2 separate regions of the Homo sapiens genome follow, and region 1 is linked to region 2. The links come from fine-mapping of genetic effects on gene expression. A gene starts in region 2. The other region holds a variant in brackets. All regions are shown on one strand. Distances are from middle to middle.

Region 1 (10,836 bases), 44 kb after region 2:
GAACTTGTAGGTGGGTTTTGTGAAATGGGCCAAATTATAGTCACCACTAGACCTTCCACAGCTTTTAAGTGTGATTTCTAGATTTTTTTCTTAAAACCTCAGGTTTCTGACTCATGAGGTCTGCAATGAAGGAAATAAGATCAGGTATCCTTTTACTATCACTAGAAGAACGTAGGTGGTTCCTCAGAAATGTTTAACACTTAAGGAGATGCCCCCCTGGTCTGCATTTGAGGGAGGAAAAAGGGCTGATAAAATAGTAGAAGTTGAGAAGAATTAAATCTATCCTGTATTCATGGCATTTCAGAGATGCTGTGCCCCAGTCAGTCTCAGCTCTGCTTGACCCAGTAGACGGGTGATAAAGGGCTTATAGTTGGCGTCCACGGTAAATGTCTCCAAGAAGACGTAAAACCTTAGCAAAAAGCAATATGCCTGAAAAGACGCTGTACGTCACTTCCTACTGGAGAAATGTGAATTATCCCAGGATGCCGTTTCCCCCTGTCAGGTTGGCAAATATTAAAAGGTGGAGGAAACCCAATTTGAGGGAGCAGGAGGCTGGGGTACTCTCGTGTGTCATTAGGGGAAGCCAAAAATCACTGCAACCTTTAGGAGGAAAAATACCTATTAGTAATCATTATTTAAAATGCACACGGCCGGCACGGTGGCTCACGCCTGTGATCCCAGCACTTTGGGAGGCCTAGGAGGGCAGATCACCTGAGGTCAGGAGTTCGAGCTAGCCTAGCCAACATGGTAAAACCCCATCTCTATTAAAAATACAAAAAAATTAGCCGAGTGTGGTGGTGCACGCCTGTAATCCCAGATACTTGGGAGGCTGAGGTGGGAGAATCGCTTGAACCCAGAAGGTGGAGGTTGCAGGGAGCCGAGATCATGCCACTGCACTCCAGCCTGGGCGACAGAGTGAGACCTCGTCTCAAAATAAAATGATCAAATGCACACAAAAGTCTTGGCTCCGTTGTTCCACTGTGAGGAATTGAGCCTGACAGATACAGTGGGCAACAATATGAAGAAGAGTGTTCTTCGCAGCCTCATTTCTGGTATCAACGAAACGAAGGGAGAGTAAATTGTCCGTTCACAGTGGGCTGCTTTTAGGAATTGTGCATCCAGACAGGTGGACACTCCCGTAAGTGGATTCATGGGAATAGAGGGCTGAGGTCCGGGCTGAGCCAGGAAAGAGAAGGAAGTGTCTGGCCATTAATTCAATCAACCAATATTTATTGAGCACCTTGTATGTGCCAGGTACTCTTCTAGGCTCTGGGGATAGGAATGAAGGAAACATACTGTTCTTGAGGGCGAGCCAGACAAATGTGAAAAGTAAGTGCAATAGTAAGGAGGAATAAAGCTAAGAGAAGGGGGTGTAGCTGAAGGAATATACAATTTTACCTTTATTATTTATTTTAGAGACAAGGTCTAGTTCTGTCACCCAGGCTGGAGTGCAGTGGCATGATCATAGCTCACTGCAGCCTCGATCTGCTGAGCTCAATGATCCCCCCACTTCAACCTCCTAAGCTGATCAGGGCCATAGGCACACTTTACCATACCAGCTAATTTTAAAAATTTCTTTTCTTTTTTTTTTTCTTGAGACAGAGTTTTGCTCTTGTTGCCCAGGCTAGAGTGCAATGGTACAATCTCGGCTCACTGCAACCTCCACCTGCCGAGTTCAAGCAATTCTCCTGCCTCAGCTTCCTGAGTAGGGATTACAGGGATTACTAGGATTACAGGCATGTGCCACCAAGCCCAGCTAATTTTGTATTTTTAGTAGAGATGGGATTTCTCCATGTTAAGCATGCTGGTCTCGAACTCCTGACCTCAGGGGATGTGCCCTCCTCGGCCTCCCAAAGTGCTGGGATTATAGGTGTAAGCCACCGCGCCAGGGCTTTTTCTTTCTTTCTTTTCTTTCTTTCTTTCTTTCTTTCTTTCTTTCTTTCTTTCTTTTTTCTTTTTTTTTCTTTTTTTTTTTTTTTGTTGTTGTTGTTGTTGAGACAGAGTCTTGCTCTGTCACCCAGGCTTGAGTGCAGTGGTGCAATCTTGGCTCACTGCAACTTCTGCCTTCTGGGTTCAAGCCATTCTCCCACCTCAGCCTCCCGGGTAGCTGGGACTACGGGCATGTGCCACCATGCCCGGCTAAGTTTTTTGTATTTTTAGTAGAGATGGAGTTTCACCATGCTGGCCAGGCTGGTCTCCAACTCCTGACCTCAAGTGATCCGCCCGCCTTGGCCTCCCAAAGTGCTGGGATTCTAGACATGAGCCACCGTGCCCGGCCTTTTTTTCTTTCTTTTTTTTTTTTTTTGAGGCAGTCTCTCTCTGTTGCCCAGGCTGGAGTGCAATGGTATGGTCTCGGCTCACTGCAACCTCTGCCTCCCAGGTTCCCAGGTTCAAGGGATTCTCATGCCTCAGCCTCCTGAGTAGCTGGGACTATAGCTGCGCACCACCATACCCAGCTAGTTTTTTTATTATTAGAAGAGACGAAACCCTATCTCTATTTTTTATTTTATTTATTTTATTGAGACAGAGTCTCACTCTGTCGCCCAGGCTGGAGTGCAGTGGCGCAATCTCGGTTACTGCAACCTCCGCCTCCTGGGTTCAGGATATTCTCCTGCCTCAGCCTCCTGAGTAGCTGGGATTACAGGCATGTGCCATCATGCCCGGCTAATGTTTGTATTTTTAGTAGAGACGGGGTTTCACCATGTTGGCCAGGCTGGTCTCAAATGCCTAACCTCAAGTAATCTTCCCGCCTCAGCCTTTCAAAGTGCTGGGATTACAGGTGTGAGCCACCTGTATCCGGCCAATTTTTAAATTTTTATAGAAATAGGGTCTCACTATGTTTCCCAAGCTGGTCTTGAACTCCTGGGCTCAAGCAATCCTCTGGCCTCGGCCTCCCAAAGTGCCAGGATTATAGGTACGAGCCACTGCGCCTGTCTTCATCTTCTCTCTTGAACTTGCTCTCCTGTCATATTTTCTACTTTGGTCAATGACACTTCTGTTCTCTGCCTCCACCCACCGCTGCCTGCCACTGACCACCTAAGCTCAAAGGCCAGGGATCCTGGATTTAAACCTTCTCTTTCCCTCCCTTACCTACCAAATCTGATGCTTCTTCCCTATTCCTCAAATCCATCCACCTCTTCCTCTGCTCCTCAGTCCCAAGAGATAACTCCTTTCTTCATTGCCTCTATTGTATTGTGGGGGCCAAAATGGGAGCCCCTCTCCAGCTTCTCAGGAGGCTGAGGCAGGAGAAAGGATCACTTGAGGCCAGGAGTTTGAGGCCAGCCTGGGAAACATGGAGAAACCCTGTCTCTACTAAAAATACAAAAATTAGCCAGGCGTGGTGGCATATGCCTATGGTCCCAGCTATTAGGGAGGCTGAGGTAGGAGGATCGCTGAAACTGGGGAGATCAAGGCTGCAGTGAACTGTGATCATGCCACTGCTCTCCAGCCTTGGTGACAGAGACCTCAGACAGAGAGAGGGAGGTCCCAGACAGACTTGGGTTCCCTTGTGGGCAAGAGCCCCTCCCCCCAAAATAAGACTATTCATATAGCATTGACTGTGCCAGCCTCTGTTTTAAACGTCTTTGATACTAGCAACAGGGCTAGGAGGAGGGTATTATTATAATTCCCACTTAACATAGGAAACTGAAGCACTGAGAGGTCAAGTAGCTTGCCATAGGTCACACAGCTACCACGTGGCTATCTGAGAGGTGAACTCAGGCAGCCTGGCTCTCTAGTATGTTCTCAGCTAGTGGGTGTCTGCTCTGCATGCTTTATTTATTTATTTATGTATTTATGAGATGGAGTTTCGCTCTTTTTGCCCAGGCTGGAGTGCAGTGGTGCGATCTCACTGCAACCTCTGCCTCCTGGGTTCGAGTGATTCTCCTGCCTCAGCCTCCCGAGTAGCTGGGATTACAGGTGCGCACCACCAGGCCCAGCTAATTTTGTATTTTTAATAGAGATGGGGTTTCACCATGTTGGCCAGGCTGGTCTTGAACTCCCGACCTCAGGTGATCCACCCACCTTGACCTCCCAATATTTATTTTTGAGATGGAGTCTCACTCTGCCACCCAGGCTAGAGTGCAGAGGCGTGATCTCGGCTCACTGCAAGCTCCACTTCCCAGGTTCAAAGGATTCTCCTGCCTCAGCCTCCCGAGTAGCTGGGATTACAGGCACCCTCCTCCATTCCCGGCTAATTTTTGTATTTTTAGTAGAGGCGAGGTTTCACCCTGTTGGGCAGGCTGGTCTCTAACTCCTGACCTCAAGTGATCCACCTGCCTCAGCCTCCCAAAGTGCTGGGATTACAGGCATGAGCTACCGCACCTGGCCATATGTGCCCAACTTTCTAAAATGTTGACTCAAATTTGTTTGAAACCATGCAGGCAAAACGAAGTAGGTCTATGAGCCACATTTGGTCTGTAAGCCACTAGTTTGCATCCTTCTGGGTTATACAATTTCCCTTCTTCACATTAAGTCACAGGAGAATAGAGGGGGAGTATTTTTTTTGCACGGAATCCTTTGGGTTCTCTCTGATCTCTTTATTTCTGAAGTTCGTGATCCCAGAAGCTCTGATTTCTTCTATAATCTGAAAAAAATCCCCAATTCCCACCATTATACCAACTCAGAGTATTTTTTTCTTCTATTGAGCTCTGCTGCCTCCTAGCTCTGAGTTGACTTATCCTCACGGAGGGTTCTCAAGCATTAGAAGCAGAAAGAGGCCAGAGACAGTGGCTCATTCCTATAATTCCAGCACTTTGGAAGGCTGAGGTGGGCGGATCACCTGAGACCAGGAATTCGAGACTGGCCAACATAGTGAGATCCCATCTCCATGAAAAATAAAAACAAAATTAGCTGGGCGTGGTGGCACATGCCTATAGTCCCAGCTACTTGGGAGGCTGAGGTAGGAGGATCACCTGAGCTCAGAAGGTGGAGGTTGCAGTAAGCCAAGAGCACACCACTGCACTCCAGCCTGAGCAATGGAGTGAGACTCTGTC[T/TA]AAAAAAAAAAAAAAAAGAGAGAAAAAGAAAAAAAAAAGAGGCCAAATTTGCCCACCACCAACTCTTACCTGGTTTTGAAGAAAGAATCTCCTTCCTAGGGTTTTAGGACCCAGCTGCCTCATTCTTTTGCAAGGATCACTCACTCTTCTATGAGTATGAACAAGCCCCTTTCCAAAAGAAGTCCTCACTGCGGGCAAGGCTGGGGCAGTGCAGCTGCGTGGGTGGTCATGGGCACTGCCCTGCTGAGGGCAGGGACTGGGATACCAGGCCCCTCCTACCTGCTTTATCTCTGAGACCAGGAACCAAGGGACCATATCCTACAGTTGATGAGCAGGGATGCTGCCCCTAGAGTCCCTTGTCTAACACTCTCCCCTCTCCTGTGTTCAGAGGTTTGGGCTCTGGGTAGCAAAACTGAAGACAGCTCATCTTTAGAGATCATCGGCCGGGCGCGGTGGCTCACGCCTGTAATCCCAGCACTTTGGGAGGCCGAGACCATCCTGGCTAACAAGGTGAAACTCCGTCTCTGCTAAAAATACAAAAAATTAGCCGGGCGTGGTGGCGGGCGCCTGTAGTCCCAGCTACTCGGGAGGCTGAGGCAGGAGAATGGCGTGAACCCGGGAGGCGGAGCTTGCAGTGAGCCGAGATCGCACCACTGCACTCCAGCCTGGGGGACAGAGCGAAACTCCGTCTCAACAACAACAAAAAGAGATCATCAAGCCGGCAGACAAGATGCTGCCAAACTCTGACCCCACCTCAGGGCCTTTCTCCGTTCGCTCTTCCTGGAATCCTTTTCCCGAGCATGGTCCCATGGCTGGCTCCCAAATGTCACCTTCTCGGAGAGGTCTTCCGTTATCAAAATTAGCTCCCCTGCGATCTTCGCTTCCACATATTCTCATCAACTGCCTTTTTTTTTTTTGAGACAGGGTCTCACTCTTGCCCAGGCTGGAGTGCAGTGTCAGGATCAGGGCTCGCTGCAGCTTAGACCTCTGTCCATCAATCGATCCTCCCACCTCAGCCTCCTGAGTAGCTGGGACCACAGGTGTGCGCCACTACGCCAGGCTAATTTTTATTTGTTATTTGTGTAGACGCAGGGGGGTCGGGGTCTTGCTATGTTACCGGGCTGGGCTCGAACTCCTGGCCTCAAGCGATCCTCCCACCTCTGCCTCCCAAAGCGCTGAAATTACAGGTGTGAGCCACCACGCCCGGCTCATCGCTTGCTTTATTGTCTGAATCGCGTTTATCTCTCTACAAAAGCAGTGTCATCCGTCTTTCCCTCCAGAGCAAGTCCCCTTCCTTCCCTGGTTCCAGAATTCCCCTCTCCGCGTGGTCCCGCTGGCAAAGCGCTGGCACCCGCAGCTCCTCGGTCCCGCGGCGCTGGCGGCCGCCCTGGCCTCCCCCTGGCTGCCATAAGGCACTACTGCCTTATGCGCAACACAAACACAGACACAGTATTGGACCGGGGCACGCTTTAATCGGGAGGGCTGGAGCAGAGGGCGGCCCCGCCGAGGGGCGTGGTCAGTGTGGGCGGAGCCTTGGGGGCCGAGTCCGCTGGTGGGCGGGACCCAAGGGGAGCAGCCAGTAGGGAAGTTGGGCGAGTTCCAGAATCAGGGGGCGTGGCTGTGTGGCTGTGGCCTCCGTGGGGTGGGCGGGGCTTACATGCCGGGCACCACCCCATTGGTCTCCATGTTGGTGAGGTTACCCCGCAGGTTCTGCTCCTCCTCGAAAGCCTTGAACAGTGAGTTGAAGTTGCCGGCTCCAAAACCCTGTGGCGGGAAAGAGAGGAGATGAGCCAAGGACCCAGAAAACCGAGTGTGCTAGCTGCCTGTCCCCTCGGGCCTGCCGGGGACAAGCAGTACCTGGTGGTTGTGGCGCTGGATGACTTCCAGGAAGAGCGTGGGCCGGTCCTGCACCGGTTTGGTGAAGATCTGCAGGAGGTAGCCTTTCTCGTCGTAGTCCACCAGGATTTTCAGCTCCTAGGCGGGAGACAGGGGGCTCTGCTAGGGGAGGCTGGCACGGTGAGATCCTTGGAAAGTCCACAGGGGCTCCTGCACCCCAAAAGTCTGGAAATGACCTCTTTTTCTGGCAGTTCAGCCACCTCCAAATATATCCCCAAACTGTCCTATTACTATCCCCCTACTACAGTTCCTAAGGCACCATTCAAGACTGCTGCCCGCTTCTAATCTTGTATCCTTACAATCCATCCTCCCCGCAGACATTATCAGGACACTTTCTTTTTCTTTTTTGAGACGGAGCCTTGCGCTGTTACCCAGGCTGGAGTGCGGTGGCGCAATCTTGGCTCACTGAAACCTCCGCCTTCCGGGTTCAAGCGATTCTCCTGTCTCAGCCTCCCGAGTAGCTGGGACTACAGGCGCAGGCTACCATGCCCGGCTAATTTTTGTATTTTTAGTAAGACGGGGTTTCACGATATTGGTCAGGCTGGTCTCGAACTCCTGACCTCAGGTGATCCACCCACCTCGACCTCCCAAAGTGTTGGGATTACAGGCGTGAGCCACCATGACCTGCTGCGGGATCTTTTAAAAGTCGGATCATGTCATTCCCCTGTTTAAAATCCTCCAGTGGAAATCGGAACCCTCATGTACTGCTGGTGGGACTGTAAAATGGTGCAACCACTTTGGAAAACAGTCTGGCAGCTTCTCAAAAAGTTAAACATATAGTGTTGCTTCCTTAAAATACGGATTAAAAAAAAAAAAGGGGGTGGCCAGGCATGGTGGCTCACTTTGGGAGGCCGAGGCAGGTGGATCACCTGAGCTCAGTTCGAGACCAGCCTGGCCAACATGGGGAAACCCAGTCACTACAAAAAAAAATACAAAAATTAGGCTGGGCAAGGTGGCTCACGCCTGTAATCCCAGCACTCTGGGAGGCTGAGGTGAGTGAATCACCCGAGGTCAGGAGTTCGAGACCAGCCTGGCCAACATGGTGAAACCCCATCTCTACTAAAAATAAAAATAAAAATAAATTGGCTGGGCATGGTGGCACACGCCTGTTATCCCAGCTACTCAGGAGGCAGAGGCAGGAGAATCGCTTGAACCCGGGAAGTGGAGGTTGCAGTGAGCCAAGATCGGCCACTGCTCTCCAGCCTGGGCAACAGAGCAAGACTCTGTCTCAAAAAAAAAAAAAAAAAAATTAGCTGGGCGTGGTGGCGGGCGCCTATAATCCCAGCTACTGGGGAGGCTGAGGCAGGAGAATTGCTTGAACCCAGGAGGCTGGAGGTTGCAATGGGCCAAGATCGCACCACTGCACCCCAGCCTGGGAAACAAAGCAAGACTCCATCTCTAAACAAACAAAAGGGAACATGGAATTACCATGTGACCTAGCTACTCCTAGATATATTCCAAAGTGCATTGAAAACACGTCCACACAGAGCCTTGTACATAGATGTTCACAGTAGCATTACGTATAACACCCCAAAAGTGGAAACAACCCAAATATCTATCAACGAGGAATAGATAAACAATGTGTGTCTATCTATACAATGGGATATTTTTCAGCCACAAAAAGGAACGAAGCACTGACACACACCCCACGCAGATGAACCTTGAGCACATGCTATGGGAAAGAAGCTGCTCACAATAGGCCTATTTTGTGATTCCTTTTTTTTTTTTTCCGAGATGGAGTTTCACTCTGTCGCCCAGGCTGGAGTGCAATGGCGCGATCTCGGCTCACTGCAACCTCCCCTTCCCTGGGTTCAAGCAATTCTCCGGCCTCAGGCTCCCCAGTAGCTGGGATTACAGGCATCTGCTATCACACCCAGCTAATTTTTGTATTTTTAGTAGAGACAGGGTTTCACCATGTTGGCCAGGCTGGTCTTGAACTCCTGACCTCATGATCCGCCCACCTCAGCCTCCCAAAGTGCTGGGATTACAGGCATGAGCCACCGTGCCTGGACTTTGTGATTCCTTTTGATGAAATGTCCAGAATAGGCAAATCTATAGAGACTGAAGGTAGATTAATGGTGCCTAGGGCTGGGGTGGGAGGGGGGAAGGGAACAGAGGGGGTTGGGAGGTGCTGGCTAAGAGGCTCAAGGTTTCTTTTTGGGGTGACAAAAATGTTCTAAAATTGATTTTTTGCCCAGGCTGGAATGCAGTAGCCTGATCATGGCTCACTGCAGCTTTGACCTCCTGGCCTCAAGTGATCCTCTCACCTCAGCCTCCTGAGTAGCTGGGACTACAGGCACGAACCACCATGCCCAGCTAATTTTTTAAAACTGTTTTTTTTGTAGATACAGGGTCGCCCTGTGTTTCTCAGGCTGGTCTTAAACTCCTGGCCTCAAGCAATCCTCTCACTTCAACCTCCCAAAATGCTGGGATTATAGGTGTGAGCCACTGTGTCTGGCCTAACTGTTTTTGTTTTTCTTTTAGACAGGGTATCACCCAGGCTGGAGTGCAGTGGCCTGATGATGGCTCACTGTAGCCTCTACCTCCTGGGTTGAAGTGATTCTCCCACTTCAGCCTCCCCAGTAGCTGGGACCACAGACACAGATCACCACGCACAGCTAATTTTTTTTTTTCTTTTTGTAGAGATGGGGGTTTCGCCATATTGACCAGGCTGGTCTCAAACTCCTGACCTCAAGTGATCCACCTGCCTTGGCCTCCCAAAGTGCTGGGATTACAGGCATGAACCACCATACCTAGTCCTAAAATGGATCTTTTTTTTTTTTTTTTTTTTTTTTGAGACAGAGTCTCACTGTGTCGCCCAGGCTGGAATGTAGTAGCGCAATCTCGGCTCACTGCAACCTCCGCCTCCCGGGTTCAAGTGATTCTCCTGCCTCAGCCTCCTGAGTAGCTGGGATTACAGGCATGTGTCACCACGCCTGGCTAATTTTTGTATTTTTAGTAGAGGCAGGGTTTCACCATGTTGGTCAGGCTGGTCTCGAACTCCTGACCTCATGATCCGCCCGCCTCGGCCTCCCAAAGTACTGAGATTACAAGCATGAACCACCACACCCAGTCCTAAAATGGATTTTGATGATAGTTGCACAACATAGCAAATAGCTAGAAATCATAGAATTGTACACCTTAAAAAAATGACATGTTATGTGACATATGTCAATAACACTGCTAAAACCAAACCAAAAAACCCTCCAGTGGTTTCTGGTCACAAAAGAACAAAATCCAGATTCCTGAATAATAGCTCACAAGAGGAACTGGCTCTTGCTTACCTGTCTGACCTAGGTCATCGCTCAAAAACAGCCTCCCATCCACTCTAGCCTATTCTTTCTGTTCCTCAGACGCTCAGGGCATGCTCCTACCTCGGCCCTTGCTGATCCCTCTGCCAGGAATGCCTTTCTTCCCGCTGTTCACATGGCCAGCTCCCGCTCATGATCTAGACTTCACTCAGATGTCACCTCCTCAGAGAGGCCCTCCCTGACCAGTCTCTGTAAAGCAGCCCCAGGCTGCCTGTTTGAACTTCCTGCACTGACTATCTCTGACCGTGCTTTTATTGTTTATTTGTTTGTCATCTGTCTCCTCCTCCCACATAGACCCTAGAATAAATGTCCTTTGCCAGCAGGGACTTGGTCTGGGCTCCCCTCCGGGCTGAGACAATATTTCTGAAAAGATGCAATGCAGAGCTCATACTCCCCCCACAAGGCTGCGGATCCTGCCTGGGCCTCACCTCCAGGGCATCAATGTTCTCCTTCACCTTGATCTTGGCCGTCTTCAGCTTCTCCCGCAGTTGTTTGTAGTACGTGGAGGGAACAGATAAGAACTCCAGGCCTCTCTCTCTCAAGTGGCGAATCTGTTTCAGAGCAAAGCTGAGGTCAGCCTTCGGCCTCCAAGTTCAACTCCCCTAGCCAGGTGGAGGTGCTGGGTCATCAGGATA
Region 2 (10,836 bases):
CTGTAATCCCAGCACTTTGGGAGGCTGACATGGGAGGATCACTTGAGCCCAAGAGGCTGTGGCTGCAATGAGTTATGATCATGCTATGGCACTCCAGCCTGGGTGACAGAGCGAGACCCTGTCTCTAACCATTCCCCACCTCAAAAAAAAACCCAGGAATTACATGCAAAGGATGCACGTGCTTCTGGTGAGGAAGTCTCTAGGCCTGGGCTCCCCCTAGAGCCGCCCATCGTCCTGACGTGCACTCAGGCGGTGCGGCAGGGCTGGGCGGAAGGGAGGCTCATGCCGCACACAGGGCTATTTTCTTGGTGGGATGAGGCTTTGCCAAGGAAGTCCTGCTTCCAGGGACAGGGGTCTCTAAGGCCCAGAGCAGAGTTGAGGAAAAAAGACCTCAAATCTGCAGGAGGACACACAGGGCGGGTGGACCCCAGCTCCAGCTGCGGCGTTGGTCAGGGAGGGGTACTGGCAGCATGAGAAGTGAAGCTGCCAGAAGAGGAACCCACTTTTACTCACTCTGCTGGGGGCCGCCCACCTGTGCTTTCCCAGGGAGACAGGGGCTGGGCAGCCCCAGCTGGGAGTTGAGACCACCTTCTGGGTGACCCCAGCCTTGTCTCAGCCCAGGCCTCCGGTGCTTCTGGGGCTCACAACACACATCTGTCCCTGGTTCCTTGTCTTAGCAAATCCTACTCCATTGCCTAACAATTTTCTTTCTGTTCCCATCTCAGGCTGAAAAGGGGACCACCGCTCCCCGGGCAACCCCTATCCCATCCTGTGCCCCTCTAACCCTGGACCCCACACCTTGGCCCTGATGAGCTCACTCTCCCGTCTGTGTCTTCACAGCCCACCTCACCCCGCCTCCCCCGGCCCAGGAAACTTCAGACTTCACCGCAGCTTCCTGCCTCAGAGGATGTCAGGGCCCCGGTGAGGCCGACAGAGCAGTGAGTGCCATGGCCCCCGCCCCTTCCCTTCTGAGCCCTGCGAGCCCCGTCACCCGATCTGCCCTCCCTCCGCTGTGGTGTCTGTAACTACTTCCTCAGGAGGGAGACAGCCACACGGGCCTTCCACGAGGGCCCCTGTGGGCAGCGTCCGGCCCCTGCCCAGGACCAGCGTTTGGTCCTGGGTGTGGAGAAATTCAGCCTCTGAGAGCCACCCCTGTCTCACAGCTCTGGTGGCCACCAGTCGGGAAGATGCCCCTTCCGCCACTGTGTGTGGCCCATTGGGTTCTAGAACTTTCTACAACTACGTTTACTAGACTCATTTCTGGCTTGGCCATTCCCTCACCCTCTTGGCCTTTGCCTCTCTCTACGTGGCCGCCTGGCCATGGCTTTCTGTCCTGTTCTCCTGAGAGCCGTCCACCTGCAGGCCGAGATGAATCATCTCCGGCATTCGGATCCACTACCCATTCATTCCATCACCTTCCAGGCCTTGCTCCATGACAAGCACTGGGACCTGGGCTCTCCCTGGTGGCACTCACTGACCAGGGGATTTCCTCCTATGAGCAAGCCTTCCCTGGTCACGGGGGGATACCCTACAGGGAGCAGCCAGATCTCTTCTCCCTGGGTGCCCCTCCTTGGGGTCTGTCAGACTGTGAGGCTAGCCACCTCCCCTGAGCCCTGCTTCTCTGCTGCTTGGAAGAGACTTGCCAGGGAAGATAGATCTCCCCGCTGCAGCAGGGTCTGGGGGTCAGCTTGGGGCATGGCACCGTAGATTCCAAAGCACAGGCTTGAGCTAGGGCTGGGCAGGGATGGTAGGAGGATCTTTTTAATTTTTTTTAATTTTTATTTTTTGAAACAGGGTCTCGCTCTGTTGCCCAGGCTGGAGTGCAGTAGCGTGATCTTGACTCACTGCAATTTCCGCCTCCTGGGTTCAAGCAATTCTCCTGCCTCAGCCTTCCGAGTAGCTGGGACTATAGGTATGTGCCAACACGCCTGGCTAATTTTTATACTTTTAGTAGAGACGGGGTTTCATCATGTTGCCCAGGCTGGTCTTGAACTCCTGGCTTCAAGCAATCCTCCTGCCTCAGCCTCCCAAAGTGCTGGGAGATGTAGTCTCGCCCTGTCACCCAGGCTGGACTGCAATGGCACAATCTCGGCTCACTGCAACCTCTGCCTCCCGGGTTCAAACGATTCTCCTGCCTCAGCCTCCCGAGTAGCTGGGATTACAGGTGCCCACCACCACACCCAGCTAATTTTTGGATTTTTAGTAGAGATGGGGTTTCACCATGTTGGGCAGGCTGGTGGACATCATATATTAATCTGATTTAATCCTCATGACCCTCTTAGTGCTCATGACAGATCAGGAAACTGAGGCCCAGACATCCCCAATGATACGTAGCCAATAGAGCTGGGGTCAAAGCCCAGATCTGACTCCAAAGAGGATGGCAGGAACAGGATGGGACCATGGATGGGATCCCCATGGTGCCAGTGGTCGCCTGCTTCTGGTGACTGTAGCAGGGGATGCTCCTCCATCCCTCTGGTAGCAGCTCTTAGCACAAATTCTTCCTACAGCAACTTGCAGCTTTCCAGAATCTCCACAACTCAATCTACTCTGACATGTTCCTTGAGCATCTCTCTCTGGGCAAGGCCAGAAAGGCCATCCCTGTTCTTATGATGTGGAGGCTGCCCTGAACAGTGAACCCCGGGACCTGATAGGGGAGGCCCTGATGGCAGAGGAGGAGGAAAGAAAAAACCTCCTGACCTCTTGCAGGGCAGTGGGTTGCTGTGAATGTCTCCACCCAGCAGCACTTGACTCAAAAAGTGGGTCAATGACCTTGCCCCTCCCTGGCTACTGCACAGGAAACATGAGAGTAAAGGTGTCCCAGACCATGACTTTTACTACCCCCGGGCCACGCCCCGGGAATTCCTCTGATGCCTCAGCTCTCCCAGCTCACCAGGGGCTAGAGACAGGCGCTGTTTTGGGGTTGGCCCTACAGGGCCCACATCCCACAAAGACAGGTTCCTCAGAGGCCACGATAGGACCTGCTGAAGTCGGAATGGAGGGGGGCTCTGAGCTAGGACAGCCCCTTTTCGGGTCCTCTCCAAGGTCTAGGTGGGGGTGGAGGTGTCTGGATTTTGGCTCCATCCTAGGTCAGTGTCTGACCTCACCTCACACACACAAGGCTTGGCTGGCCGGAGAGGGCCACCGGATGACGTGGTTCCCTGCAGGTCACTAAACACTGAGTCACAGAGGTGGGGTGAGGCCCCACCTGGGGATCTCAACCTTTGGTCCCCAATGTTGATGAAGCCCAGATGGGAGTCAGGGTCCTCCCACTGACTGTTTCTCCTGTCCCCACCCCTCACAACACCGACTCCCAAGCAATTGCACATAAATCCGTAAACCACCCGTGGGGGCCTGCAGGTGGCAGGCAGAGCCTGGTGTGGGGCCCCTGCCCCCAGTGCTCTGTTCCTTCCTCAGTTCATTTTCTACACTGTCTGGTTTTGTCCCAGGGAACTAGGAAAGCACAGAAGTAATTGTAGCCACGCAATTCCAGAACCACCAACTGCAAGCCGTGGAATCCTGGGAGCTGCAGACACAGAACTCGCATCCACAGGACCCCAGAGCCTCAGGCTGCAGAGCGCAGGCCACAGAGCCCTGGAGCCACAGGCTGATCTGCAGCCGGGAGCATCCCAGAACCACAGGACCCAGACACACAGCCCAGGCAATCCGAGCACCAAGGGACTCAAATCTGCAGCTCACAGAGTCTGCAGAGACCACAGCAGGTAGCGCAGCAATCCTGGAACCATGGGAGGCCCAAGAGCAGCCCACTGCTTTCTAGAACCACAGGAGAGGAACGAGCTGTGGGCTCTCAGCACAGAGCTGGGAGGGTGGCCCCAGAGTTCACCTCCTCCTCCAAACACCTTCCACTTACGTATAGGGCTTGGCCTCTAGGGCCCCGCAGCCAGCGCCCCTGAGCGGCCTCCAGGAGTGAAGAGCCGGCCAAGGCCCTGCCAAGGCTGCAGGGCGGGGACACCCAGTGGGGGACGCCCGGGAGGGGAAACCCTTCGGGCGGGCGGACCCTCGGGCCCCCCGGCGCGCAGGCGCACTCACCGGCCGTGTCGTAGAGGTTCAGGGTCACCTCCTTGCTGCCAACGGTCACGCTGGCCGTGTACTTCTCGAACACCGATGGGGCGTAGTGCTGCGGGAGAGGGGGTCGGGTTGGTCCTTAGTGGGGCCGGCGGGGGCCAAAGTTCCAGCTGAATCCACTGTCCACCCCCCTCACTCGTCCCGGATCAGCCCCCCCTCACCCCGCTGGGCTCTGGAATTCCCGAGGGGGCGCCCCGGGGTGGCGGCCGCCTGTCCGTGCTCGGGACGCTGGGGACTGAGGGTCGGGGCTCTGGGCTCAGGGTAAGGGGCGTCCCTCGCCCCCACCCCAGCCCCGCTGCGGGCCTCACCTCGGGGAAGGAGCCCTGGCTGTACACCATGAGCAGCGAGGTCTTGCCGCAGCCGCCGTCGCCCACGATCACGATCTTCAGCTCCTTCCTGCCCGGACCGGGGGCGGCGGTCTGGGCCAGGGCCCCGGGGGCATCCATTGCCCGGAGCCCGCAGCACTGGCGGCGGCGCGCCGGGCACTAGCGGAGCCAAGAGGTCGGGGGCGGGGCGGGGCCGGAACCAGCCCCGCCCACTCGGAGCAGCGCCGCCTCCGCCAGGCAGCCTCCCGGCCGACCTCCCAGCCTCAGTTTCCTTTCTGCTAAGGTCTCAGCCCTGGGTGTGGGTATTCAGCTCTCAGTCCCAGGGATACTGCAGCACCGGAAAAACGGGGCTCAGCTGCGAGCAAAGCTCCCACCCCCAACCCACCGCCACCCTCCGCGCGTCACGTCGCGCCCCTCGCCGGCGAGACCCGATCGTGGCTGCCCAGCGACTCCAGGTGCCCCTGATTAGCAGGCTCCGCCTTCGGCAGGGACCCTCTGATTGGCTGGCGCGGCCAGACAGGGTCTCCCGGATTGGCTGGCTGTGCCTCCGCACCGGGTTCGAGAAGCCCCCGGCCTCCAGCTCCGGGAAGAGCCCCTCAACTTTGCACTGCCCCAGCGGTGTGGCTTGGCACATGTCCGCCTCTGGCCTCAGCTTCCCCACAGGAGGTAGCGGCGGTGGCACCAGGGAAGATGCTGACGCGAGAGTCATGTCTGCCCACCTCGCCTGGGCCAGGGACGCCAGCGTGCACGCGGGTTCGGGGTGAGGGACTGGGCTCCGCTTACCCGCACCCCGACCCTGGGCTGCAGGGTGGACGTCTGACGCCCTCTGCCGGGCAATCGCCTCGGCGCCGGCCGCTCCGGGCGCAGGTTGGCCCGAAACCACTAGGGGCGGCCGCCTCCTTCCGGCAGGAGCCAGAGGCGTGAACCACGCAAGACGTCGTCAGGGAGGGGCAGGTTGGAGTAGCTCTAGTTGAAGTCAACTTGGTCCCTCTCCTGGAGCTTTGGAGACTGATAACCCCACACCCACCAAGAAATGTAAGAAAATGCGTTTCCTTGCCAGCAGCCACATGTCCTTCATCCCAGGAATCCCCCCAACTCTCCCATCCCCTGATCAAAACAGCTTATTTGTTGAGCACTTACTGTAGGCAGTGCTATCAGGGCTGCTGGCTGAATTACCCGTAACCCCCACCCCTCCTCTTACTCCTCACCCTGGGCGGGCTGACTGCCCTCTGCACCACCCAGATGAGTCGACAGGGTGGCAGAGGGACCCCCCCCTGGAGCCGGTCCACGGCAGACAGGCACGAGAGCATGGCCGAGAGTGGGATCCTACCAGCTGGGGTAGGAAGAGCCCATTTCTAACAAAACCCCCAACAGCAGCATGGTTGGGGGCAAGTGGCCTTCGTAGTTTCCTCAGATAGGGGCTGGCAGGACTCAGGATCTTTTTGCTGGCGACCCCACCCCGAAGACTCCCAGTTTTCAAGGTCTCGGCAAGGGTCATGTAAACCTCACTTCGTGGAGGAAAACCGCCAACCTGGCAGTTCCATGGTCAAGGTTCTCACAGTGCAAGCAAGGCACGGTCTGACCACCAGAGGGCAGCAGCGACCGCCCACAGAATCCCAAGACCACAGCAGAGCTGGGAAGGGGAGGCCGGGGAGGCACCCCAGGTTCTCAGTGGACGCCCTCTTCAGGCACTGGGCAAAGGGTAATCTCCTGGGTCAAGCACCCCCTAGACAAATGCACAGCAACTCATCCATTCCTTTTTTGCAACACGTTTATTGAGAGGCAGTTGTGCTCCAGCCTTCCAGGAGGTCACAGTCTTAGGGGAAGCAGTGCAATGGAGGTTGGAAGCAGGGGAACCCTTTACTGAAGGCTGAGCGCTGGCTGGCACACTAGGCCTGGCAGCACTGGAGGGCAGGCAGGGAAAGTAGGGTGGGTAACCCAGCCTGGCAAATGCACGGCAGCTAGAAAACCTCTTCAGGTTCTGGGGTGGCTGGGCCATGAGAGGGGAGGCCAGGCAGGGCTGTCAAGGTAACCGGGGTCAGATCATGGAGTTGCCTGCCAGGCTCCACAGGAGTGGGGGACAGAAGCAGAGCAACCCAGCTACCAGCCGGGCCCTGAGCTCCCTCAGGGTGACCAGGGAGGAGCTGTGACTGGCTGGGGAGGCAGGGCTGGGGCCGAGGTTCCCCAGGACGACAGGAGGGAGCCAAGGCACTCTAAGAGGTGGAAGAAGAGGACCAGAAGCTGGTGAGTGCATCACTGGAGCCCATAGGAGGGCTCCTGACTGTCCTCAAAAGCCTCAGACCTCAGTGTCCACTTTCTCCATCCAAGAAATGGGGCTGTGATCTCTGCTTATGACAGCACAAGCTTGCACAGAAGTGGAGGCGGGAAATAAGCACAAGTGTGCCTTCCCAGCCCGGCCTGGGTCCAGGCAGAACAGCTGATACTGGCCCCAGTCTGCCCACCCACCCCTGCTGGCCAGGAGGCTGGCAGAACCCCAGCCCCACCTGCCTGGAGCGCGTTTGATTTGGACTCGACTGTTGTGGTGATGGAGGGGGGCTGGATCTGTAGCTAAAAATACCTCGGAGCCAAGCCAGCTGCTCAGAGCTTCCTCGGAGGCTGGGCCGCGCTGGGCCCACTGAGGAACTGGGCATGCCCACCCAGGAGGTAGCTCCCTTACCTGCTAGAGGTTGAGGGCCTGAGTCACTCCCCCTTCCAGTCACCAGGAATTCCTGGAGAGTTTGAGAAAGCAAGAAAGATTCTTTAAGCTGGTTCCTGACACAACAGCTGTTAGGCCACTGAAGCCTGGGGGAGCGGCCGGGTGGCATTTGTGGGGTCAGCTCATCGGTGTCCACACAGGGGCCTATGCCATAGTGCGGCCAACAGGGAAACTGAGCCCTGGAGAGTTGCAGGGGCCCAGCCACTGCTGTGTTGTCAGAGCAAAGTCCAGCCAGCCCCAGTGAGGCTGGAGGCAACGCTGTGGCACCCACTTCCCTGGATGCCTGAGAACCCTGCAGAGGGGCCACCCACATGAGGCAGAAGACACTCAGCCTTCAGGGATGAAGCTACTCCCTGAGGTCCCAGGGACGGGAGCTGGCCTGGCAAATACATCTACCCTGCCTGAGCAGTCCCCAGGCCTTGGCTGCCCATGAGCACTCGGGGACAGGCCAGAGACAAGGCCACTCCTTGAGTGCTAAAAGTTCCCGTCACAAAAGCCAGACTCAGCAACAGCTCAAAACATTATTGTCCGGCCAGGCGCGGTGGCTCATGCCTGTAATCCCAGCACTTTGGGAGGCCGAGGTGGGCGGATCACCTGAGGTCAGTTTGAGACCAGCCTGACCAACATGGAGAAACCCTGTCTCTACTAAAAATACAAAATTATCCGGGCGTGGTGGCACATGCCTGTAATCCCAGCTACTCGGAGGCTGAGGCAGGAGAATCGCTTGAACCCTGGAGGCGGAGGTTGCGGTGAGCCCAGATCACACCATTGCCTGGGCAACAAGAGCGAAACTCTGTCTCAAAAAAAAAAAAAAAAAAATTATTGCTGGACCTGCTCCTCCCAGCGCTCAGGGGCAGGAGCTTGCTGGAAGTCACATGCCAGCTACAGATGCACTGGGCCAGACGACCTGAGATGGTGGTGCCACCTCACTGCACAGCCCAGGCAGAGGCTGTGTCTCCACCCAGAGGGTCCGAAAGGTCATGTTCCACGCTAGGGCTCCGGGCGGAGAGGCCGGAAGAGGCGGGGATGCCGGCGACTCAGTAGTAAGGCAAGTCCTGCCACCTCCTGGCCGGCCCTTCCGCTGGCGTGGCCCTCTCTCTGCAAGCCCTGGGGCCCAGCGCCAGCAGCGGCCCCGCCCCGCGTTCGCTGGGTGACCGGTGGGCGGGGCGCCCTCGAGGGACCAGCAGGAACAGCAGCAGGAGGACAAACTGCCTCACCCTCCCTGCCCCAAGAGGTGATGGTGGGGGGACAAAGAAAGAAGAGGGACCAAAGCAGAGAGAGAGGGGTACAGTCCAGCCAGGTGGGTCCCGACACCGTGCCGAGAACCACATCCAGACCACAGCTGAGCACCCAACAGCTCACTGATTGGATCCAGGGAGGGGAGAAACTGGCTGGAGCCCTCCAGGGTGCAGCTGGGAGGGAGACGTACATCAATTACTTAATTATCCAAAGCAGGTGGGGAGTAAAGACCCCACCCGGAGAGCAACGAAGACTCTAAAGGGAGGCGCCACACCCTCGGGCGGCAGAGGGTAACGTGAGAGCAACGGGGTTCAATGGCAGAGCCAAATTTAAAACAGGTTTCAGGGAGTATAGAAGGAGGAGGCTTTTGGGATATTAACAATGTGAACCTCAATTTTTATCAGGTGCTTTCGCCCTCTTGCTGTACTTGGGCAGCGGGGAGTCTGGGCAGGAACACTCTTCCCTCCCAGCAAAGGAGCTGGACCCAGCACGGCTCATCGGGGATTGAAGACCCAGCCCTGGCCCTCACAGGAGGAGCCAACAGCACCACGCCAGTTACTTCCAACCAGACAGTCCCGGGCAGGGATGCCAGCAGACAGCTGGCACGGGAGGAAGCCCAAAATAACCCAGACAGCTGGGGTGAGGGGGTGCCATGGGCACAGGCGCTGGCTGCCAAGTCAAGCCACCTGGAACCCCATCCTGGCTCTATTGGTGGTGGCCTTGTGACCTTGGGGAGTCACTTCTCCCCGGACCATGGGTGGGTGACCCAAATCTTGACCCCATCATGGAACAGCCCCTGTGGATGGGGAAAGGCCTGCAGCTGGACTCAACCACTCCAGAGGAGAACCGCGTTGGCCGCCTTCCCAGGGAGCGCCAGATTCCCCTTTGCCCTGAGGCAGGGACACGTGCTTCAGCAGGTGGGCTGGTGCGGGGGGAAGCTCTGAGGCAGCCCAGCCCCCACCCCCTGCAGCCACTCCCAGCAATAACCACGATCACAATGGAGGCCAACTAAAAGCTTGGGAGGAGGGCCTCTTTAACGCACTTAATCCTCCCACCACCCTTTCCAGCAGGCATCCTTATCACTTTACAGGGAGACACTCACCCAAGGTCACCAGCACTGAGAGATCCTAGCCCATGGCGAACTATCTCCCTTAACTTAGCACCAAGATACCTTTAGCAAGATCTCCTTGTTAATCCGAACAGGCCCCCAGAGCTCGGTGTAGCCCTCACAGCGGGAGTGGGGCACAAGTCCCAAATAGGGGAGGTGGTGTGATCAGGAGCACCTGGACCCAAATGGTTCATCAAAGCAATCACAAAGCAGAAATCACAAGGAGGGGGGCTCCGAGACCAAGGGCCGCCATCTCCAGCTGTGGAGCTTCTTAGACACTGAGATGGGAAACTATTCAATACATGAAGTCGGCTAGCGTTAGAATGAAATCAATTACTATGTGCCAAGCGTGGAACGTGGCACTTCTGCGTCAAAACCCCAGGTGTTACCAGGCTAGGGGCTGGAGTCTCAAAATGTGTTCCCAGACCACAGCATCAGCCTCACCTCACCTGGGAACTTGTTAGAAATGCCAGTCCTAAGGACCAACCCACTGAATCAGACACTTGGGCACCAGGCCCGGTGGTCCATTTTCAGTGAGCCCCCCTTCCGGTGTGATTCTGATGCCGGTTCCAGACTAAGAACCACTGATCTAGCCCTGTTTTCGGAGATGGAGAAATAGGCTTGGAGGCTATACCGCTTACGCAAGGCCATAGCTGTTCAATGGCTCGCCAGGTTTCAAATCCAGCTTTGTCTGGTTCTAGAAACAAGGCTTATATACAGGCCTGCCCATTCGGGGACTGGAGAAGAAAACAATCCCAGGAAGGTGGAGAAGCGTCAAGGAAGGCCCTTTCATAGAGAAAGGTGGCCGGAACCTCGGGTCTCTGTTCTTTGCCTCTCTAGCAGCCAGACATCAGAGGACGGCTCACACTGTCACCCCACATGCCCCACGGGGGCGGCTGGAGGGAAGGCCACAGCACAGTTGGGCTTTCTGACAGTGACCTGTGTCTTTCAGAAGTAGGCGGCACCCAGGGCCCTCCCCCCGCCGAAGAACACACAACTGGGAAATACTTGCAAGTGGATCCTCTCGTATGCTGCTATATTCGGCAGAGACTTACACGCCCCAAATGCCTGACAACAGAAGCTGACAGACGGGGATGGATGGCCCCGGCGGCCCAGCAGGCGGCCCTACGCGCTCGCAGCTGGGGGGGGGGGGGTGGGGTGGGGCGGGGCCGCAGAACCAGCCCGGCGTGTTTGGGGTTCGGCCCTCCCTGGGCTGCAGGCCAGAGCCCCCCAAATCTCCCTCACGGTCTGGGCAAGTACTCACACCTACCTTAGTGGGAGGACTGTCAGAGTCAAACTAGGCCTGCCCCTGCCGTTGACAGAAGGAAAGATTGTCCATTCGGGGGGTGCCCGAACGTCGCCCC

Direction of the effects. Alleles are on the strand shown, and positions count from the first base shown. SD is a standard deviation of normalised expression in the study named.
In carriers of allele TA in region 1, the expression in platelets of the gene that starts at base 4,584 in region 2 tends to be lower than with T alone (moderate effect, 0.74 SD a copy in CEDAR).

The links. PIP is the estimated chance that this variant, and not a neighbour inherited with it, causes the effect.
Region 1: its variant is the best candidate, but not a certain one, in a credible set for the expression of RHOF in platelets (CEDAR, PIP 0.82).

What each region holds. Positions count from the first base shown.
Region 1 is chr12:121,833,081-121,843,916 of GRCh38, forward strand. It overlaps HPD (4-hydroxyphenylpyruvate dioxygenase), which reads right to left. Exons shown (of 14, transcript NM_002150.3): 12 at 10,630-10,752; 13 at 6,852-6,968; 14 at 6,447-6,758. The coding sequence ends at 6,648. Among named protein-coding and RNA genes, the nearest start is that of TIALD, 18 kb to the right of the region's middle. RefSeq lists enhancers at 5,768-6,438, 7,110-7,779 and a silencer at 6,401-6,600. The variant T/TA (reference allele first, on the strand shown) is at 4,995.
Region 2 is chr12:121,789,105-121,799,940 of GRCh38, forward strand. RHOF (ras homolog family member F, filopodia associated) reads right to left here and starts at 4,584. Exons shown (of 5, transcript NM_019034.3): 1 at 4,392-4,584; 2 at 4,048-4,135. The coding sequence starts at 4,529. It overlaps LINC01089 (long intergenic non-protein coding RNA 1089), which reads right to left. Exons shown (of 4, transcript NR_152740.1): 3 at 10,743-10,836; 4 at 6,163-7,138. It also overlaps a transcript of SETD1B not described here. RefSeq lists enhancers at 999-1,068, 1,149-1,348, 3,655-4,486, 4,492-5,032, 4,979-5,028 and 7 more and silencers at 3,959-4,498, 10,767-10,816.